Linked DNA regions of Homo sapiens: region 1 is reported to be linked to region 2. The links are microRNA targets in miRTarBase. Many come from high-throughput screens and were not tested one by one. Region 2 holds a microRNA gene; the other region holds the end of a gene's coding sequence.

The links. The annotated mature microRNA hsa-miR-6747-5p reads AGGGGUGUGGAAAGAGGCAGAACA and lies in region 2 at 2,171-2,194, shown strand. An mRNA with a match to its seed (bases 2 to 7 or 8) in the 3' UTR can be bound and repressed. Matches are read on the target gene's strand: a 7mer-m8 pairs with bases 2 to 8, a 7mer-A1 pairs with bases 2 to 7 and ends in A, and an 8mer does both.
Region 1: the mRNA of PYGO1 is a reported target of hsa-miR-6747-5p. The part of its 3' UTR that is shown has no 7-base or 8-base seed match.

The regions. Positions count from the first base shown.
Region 1 is chr15:55,543,161-55,546,567 of GRCh38, reverse strand. PYGO1 (pygopus family PHD finger 1) reads left to right here. Exons shown (of 3, transcript NM_001367806.1): 3 at 1-3,407. The coding sequence ends at 545. Among named protein-coding and RNA genes, the nearest start is that of DNAAF4, 37 kb to the right of the region's middle.
Region 2 is chr11:62,565,821-62,569,236 of GRCh38, reverse strand. It overlaps MIR6747 (microRNA 6747), which reads left to right and starts at 2,166; the gene lies at 2,166-2,226. It overlaps EEF1G (eukaryotic translation elongation factor 1 gamma), which reads left to right. Exons shown (of 10, transcript NM_001404.5): 6 at 1,709-1,838; 7 at 2,227-2,431.

The sequences.
Region 1 (3,407 bases), not on the chromosome of region 2:
AAGACTTTACTCAAGGAGCAACCAAAAACACTAATCAAAATTCCTCTGCTCATCCACCTCACTTGAATATGGATGACACAGTGAATCAGAGTAATATTGAATTAAAAAATGTTAATCGAAACAATGCAGTAAATCAGGAGAACAGCCGTTCAAGTAGCACTGAAGCCACAAACAATAACCCTGCAAATGGGACGCAGAATAAGCCACGACAACCAAGAGGTGCAGCAGATGCCTGCACCACAGAAAAAAGCAATAAATCCTCTCTTCACCCAAACCGTCATGGCCATTCGTCTTCTGACCCAGTGTATCCTTGTGGAATTTGTACAAACGAGGTGAACGATGATCAGGATGCCATCTTATGTGAGGCCTCTTGTCAGAAATGGTTTCATCGGATCTGTACTGGAATGACTGAAACAGCTTATGGCCTCTTAACTGCAGAAGCATCTGCAGTATGGGGCTGTGATACCTGTATGGCTGACAAAGATGTCCAGTTAATGCGTACTAGAGAAACTTTTGGTCCATCTGCAGTGGGCAGTGATGCTTAATCAAAGGCATTAACTAAAGTGGGTTTATTTTCCTGTGCATTGCAGAAGTTCATTGACACAGGATTTTAATGTTTTACATTATTTTTTTAAATGCATACACAAAAACATTATTTACTTAGTTTTTATTAATCACTTCATCACTAGAGCAAATTTTTTATTGTCTTTGCTTGCTGTCTTAAATGAGAATAATGTATATGGGGGTGCTTTAGAAACATAAATAAATGTTAGTTGTTGTTATTTATCACAAACATAAAAGCCTCTTGAAACTTCAAAATAATATATAACAAATGTAGGCAAGTTTTAACTTTTAAAAGTTAGAATCATTGAAAAACGTGTATTTCAGTGCTGAACTTTGGTTGTACCATATTAAAGATTTAGTTCAAAAAGTTTATCAAGGATCCACTTAACACGTCTTCACAACATAATATATGTAACTGTAACATGGGGGAAAGCATACATTTTTATGGATTAAAAAAATAATAGTATGACACCAGATTCCTCCTCCACTAGGGTCTTTGGAATCAATGAATTTCATATTTCAAGTGAGTTTTCAGGATATCTGTTTGTACAGATACGAGACAGATCTTAGCATATAGTAAATTCTCAGTAAGTATTGTTGATTAACTTGTGGATGGTACCACATGAAATTGCTAATATTAGATCAGTTGAAAATTGACTGCAATTAGTAAAGTTGGTATAACGTACGTTCCCAGTTGTGCTATTTAGAATTATGATAGTATTATGCTCCTACTTTTCTTTGATATTGAGTTGTCTTGTTATTGTTTATTGTTTTCCAGAGAAATACTATAGTATCCACAGAAGAATTGTGAATACTTTTTTATAATTTTGAACTGGGACATATTGCAGATGAGGAAGGTAGAAACATCCATTTGGCCTTAGAGGGCTCTGCTAGTAAAAGAACTACTCAGTGGTGGTTTGAAAAATCTTGTTCTGGGGATCTGAATTTCAAAAATGAACCCTAGGGGAGATCAAAATCCATTTTAAACAAAGATCAATTAAGAGCCAAAGTGAAATCTAACTTGCAAACAACAATTTGAAGCCTTGCAGCAGACTTAAGGAATTCCCGCTCTGACTGGGGAAAAGTATAAAAATGGACCTGAGAGTACCCTCTTGAGGGATGATCAAGAATGGAGACAGTTGGAGTTGTGCTCATTAAGATTCAAAACAGCAGAAATCCATTTTTGGAGCAGATTATAACCTGTGGCCAAAAAAAAAAAATGTGTGCTGTTTGACAGCTAATGGCAATTTATACAATCATTGGAGGCTGGTAAAGCTCCCTAATATGTTGCCACCATTATCATTGCAACCAAAAAAATTCTGAAGATTGTGTGGTGATCTACGAAAGAGATAAATAATTACTGTTATTTAAACCCAAGTGAAACAATGACGGCAGCAGCATATTATCAAGAAATTTAAATTATGCATGAAAATGTGATTTAAAAACAATGTCCTTTGGGTAACACACAAGAACCTACACTTTCACAGACAAGGACTCGACCTCACATGTCACAAGCTACTAAAGCAAAGTTAAGTGACTTGGGCTATGAAATTTTGTCATGTCCATTTTAGTCACTGGACCTTTATTCCATGGACTACTGTCTATCATTTGGAGCTTTTTCTAAGAAACAATGCATTCCCCAATCGAGATGAAGTAACTGGAAGATGTTAACAATTTATACAGCCTAACAAATGATGAATTTTATAAAAGTTAGACCTTTAATATTCTGTTGGAAGAAAACTATTCATGCTCCTGATGCATATTTTGATTGAATAAAACTTATTTTTTTAAATACATTGTTTTAATTTTGACCTACAAAAACAGCAATTTCATATGGTACAAGGTAATACAAGGTTTTCTCCATTTACCCTTGACTAGTTAGAGGTGAGTACAAAATATTTTCAGTAGTTGTAAAATATTTATCTTTACAATTTTAGGAAACAAAATGATATAAACTATACTTCTAGGTACTCCTTTGTGTGAAAACTTTACCAGTTGAAGCAGGTTAAAATGCAGTATTTTGGGCTGACAGGCATTTGATGGTGTTCAGTAGTGTACTTGAAGATCTCATTTTACTTGGATTTTTTATTATACATATTTCTCTAAATGTTTAAGGACCTAGTTATGTTGCTCCTGAAAGTTTAATGAGTGCTGATTTTTAATAAATGATGCACTGTATGCTGTATGCCTAGTTGTAGCATCAGATCATGATTTATTATTACCCTGAATAGAGCTAGATGATAGATATTTTGAGTAGAACTTTCCAGTGTTCTCAGGAGTTAACACTTTACATGGTAGTACTTGAGTTGTGATCATTACTAAAATCAATTATGCAGTTTCTTAAACCCTTTATCTCTTTAAGTTTCAGTAGTTAGCTGTTTTTGTGAAAATGAAATAACTTCTCCCAAGCTAGTCTAAAGGTATGTGTTATGCAATATAATTCATTTTCTATTTCCACATAGTTGTTTTTAAAAACCTACAAACAGGTGAATTTTTATTCAGGTGTTTAGGTCTTCAAAGCACCTTACTTAAATAAGAATCTGTAAATATTCAAAAGAAAAACTCACGGTTCATTCTGATAGTGAATCATAGCCAAACTGTAATCATAGCTGATGAATAGCGTTCATGTGTTTGAATTAATTTTCCTGCTAGTTCTACATTTGTCTCTACATAATGCTAAGTCAAAAGTTATATAGATGCTTTTGGATGGAATAAGTGATGAACTGTAAGAATAGCCAGATGATAATTTGTCTGAAGAAGGCTATTATACAAACTGAAATGGCTTCTTAGGATAAATGATAAGCTGCCTTCAACTTTAAAAATATGCAGTGATGGAAAAAAAC
Region 2 (3,416 bases):
GCCTCCCAAGTGCTGGGATTGCGGGGGTGAGCCACCACACCCAGCCAGGACTGTCCATTATTCTAAATGCGTTTGAATATTTTCTTTGAATGTTCTTTACTTTCTGAAGTTTGATGGATGGGTGGGTGTGGGGGGTGTGTGTGTGTGTGTGCGTGTGTGTATAGTATGGCCAATATAGATAGTAAATACCTATAGTGTTTAGATTTTATTTGGCAAAAAAGTCCTCGATAGCCCTCTGTGGGTCTCAATCTTTTTTTTTTTTTGAGACGAAGTCTCGCTCTTGTCCCCCAGGCTGGAGTGCGATGGCGCGATCTCGGCTCACTGCAACTTCTGCCTCCCGGGTTCAAGTGATTCTCTTGCCTCAGCCTCCTGAGTAGCTGGGATTACGGGCATGTGCAACCATGCCTGGCTGATTTTTGTATTTTTAGGAGAGGCGGGGTTTCACCATGTTTGCCAGGCTGGTCTCGAACTCCTGACCTCAGGTTATCTGCCCGCCTCGGCCTCCCAAAGTGCTGGGATTATAGGCGTGAGCCACCGCTCCTGGCCGACGTTTGAAATTTAAAAGATTGGAAACAGTAGATCTGAAATAGTTTTGTAAAGGAGCAAGACAATTATTACTCCTACTCCTAAATGGAGGATGGACCCAAGCATCCATCCATTAAACTGGACTACACTGAAAAAAAAGATTAGAAAAAGAAATGGAGGCCAGGTGTGGTGGCTCACGGGTAATCCCAGCACTTTAGGAGGCCAGGGCAGGAGGATTGCTTGAGCATGCGAGTTCAAGATAAGCCTGGGCAACATAGTGAGACCCCATCTCTATTAAAATTTTTTTTTTTTTTTTTTTTTTTTGAGACAGAGTCTCACTCTGTCACCCAAGCTGGAGTGCAGTGGCGTGATCTCGGTTCACTGCAACCTCCACCTCCTGGGTTTAAGTGAGTCTCCTGCCTCAGCCTCTGGAGTAGCTGGGACTACAGGCACGTGCCACCACGCCCAGCTAATTTTTTTTTTTTTGAGACAGAGTCACTCTGTCACCCAGGCTGGAATGCAGTGCCGCGATCTCCGCTCACTGCAAGCTCCGCCTCCCGGGTTCACGCCATTCTCCTGCCTTAGCGTCCCGAGTAGCTGGGACTACAGCTGCCCGCCATCACGCCCAGCTAATTTTTTTATTTTTAGGAGAGATGGGGGTTCACCGTGTTAGCCAGGATGGTCTCGATCTCCTGACCTCGTGATCCGCCCGCCTCGGAGATCCCAGCAGTTTGGGAGGCCGAGGTGGGCGGATCACTTGAGGTCAGAGTTCGAGAACAGCCTGGCCAACAGGGCGAAACCCCATCTCTACTAAAAGTACAAAAATTAGCTGGGTGTGGTGGCAGGCACCTGTAGTCCCAGCTACTCAGAAGGCTAAGGCATGGGAGGCTGAGGCACGAGAATCACTTGAACCCAGGAGATGGAGGCTGCAGTGAGCTGAGATCACGCCATTGCACCCCAGCCTGAGCGATAGAGTGAGACTCTGTCTCAAAAAAAAAAAAAATTGAAAAAAATGAAGAAATGGGAAGTAATCCAGGGAAGGATGATGTTGTATGAAGCTATTGTCTATAGGGTTTGAAAAGAAGGTGAGCACTGGGACTTAGGTAGAGCAAGGACTCTTGCTGTGAACAGAACTCTTCAGGGCCTTTCCACTGACTTTGTTTACACCCTTATGTCCTGGCAGGTTCTAGAGCCTTCTTTCCGCCAGGCCTTTCCCAATACCAACCGCTGGTTCCTCACCTGCATTAACCAGCCCCAGTTCCGGGCTGTCTTGGGCGAAGTGAAACTGTGTGAGAAGATGGCCCAGTTTGATGGTGAGTCTGAGGAGACTGGGAGGCATATGGCCAGGATCAGGGTCTGGTTTGCTCTGCATCAACCCCTTGATTTCCTGTCTTGCTTTTGGGTTATGGGGACCTGCAGAATGTAGGGTGTCAATGTGGTAGCTAATATTATGTGCAGTTTCGTGTACACTCATACCCTGACTAATTTGTATTACTATATAGATTTGCGATATAAAGTATTTGTTGCTGAGTGTGTTGTTGCTGGAGGACACACAGTGAACTGATGAGCAGTCTGGGGCCTAAGTTCCTTACTTGTCCCATTCGTCAGTTTCCTCTGTTACCTTGCTTGCTCTGTGTGGTTTTGGAGGGGTGTGGAAAGAGGCAGAACATTCGTTCACTTTCCTGCCTTCCTCTGCACCAGCTAAAAAGTTTGCAGAGACCCAACCTAAAAAGGACACACCACGGAAAGAGAAGGGTTCACGGGAAGAGAAGCAGAAGCCCCAGGCTGAGCGGAAGGAGGAGAAAAAGGCGGCTGCCCCTGCTCCTGAGGAGGAGATGGATGAATGTGAGCAGGCGCTGGCTGCTGAGCCCAAGGCCAAGGACCCCTTCGCTCACCTGCCCAAGAGGTAAGGATATTGGAGGGTGGAGGGTGTGGGACCAAAGAAGGCCTGTTCTCACCTCTGTATGTCCCCCCTCACACACAGCTAGAGCCAGAATTTTAGGTTGTCCATATAAAGTTAAAGGTATATTTTAGTTGCAAATAAAGCAGCTTTCTGGCTGATAATCAGGAATTGGGCAAATTTTGATTGTGGAGAGCAAGTTTCAAGTACAGCCAGTACTGGGGAAGATTGAACTCCTATTCCAACAAAGACAGGAACAGATTTTGATATAGTGGTAAGTTGGTTTTGAGCAAGCTCATTTGACCATTTGAGAGCTCTGAGAACAAATACAGGGAGAGGCGTGGGGAGGAAGAAAGTGCAGAGAGCCTTGCGGTGCGCCACGCGCCCGGCTGTGCGGAGATAGTGGATGCCAGAGCAGGGTCCTTTGAATTGTTTTGTTTTCTGTTTTGCTGAATCAGACTGTACAAAAATTGCTCACTAAGAAAAAGGATGAAGATCATAGCTAAGTAGTGTCTGTCTAGTTCATTGTTCCACAACCGAGTAAAGTCCCCAAGTAGAAGAAAGTAGGTGTCCTCTGTATCCCTTTTTCAGTTAAAGGTAGGGCTTCTTGGAAGAAATAATATAGTAAAAACGAGATTTTTGGCATGAAAAATGTAGGACGCTGAGTGCTTGCCCAGTTCTCTGGGATGGAGTCTTTCTTCCATCACTGCTCCAAGTCATTTTATTGGGAGTTCAAGCAGTTTGAGAAATATATATTCTGTGGTCACTTTGCTTTGGAACTCCTCTTTCTCTGTACTTTTTCCTCCCACTCACCCTGTCATTTCCAAAGCCGTTCATCTTTTTACTGCTTGGTCTGCTAGGGTTTACATTTCACCCTCTCCCATCTTGTAATGGCTTGGATACCGGGTGAACCAGCCTAAAGGAGCACCCACTGGTAGGGACACAGTAGCTGTGCATAGAATTGTGAATTACAAGCATTGCACTAATAGAT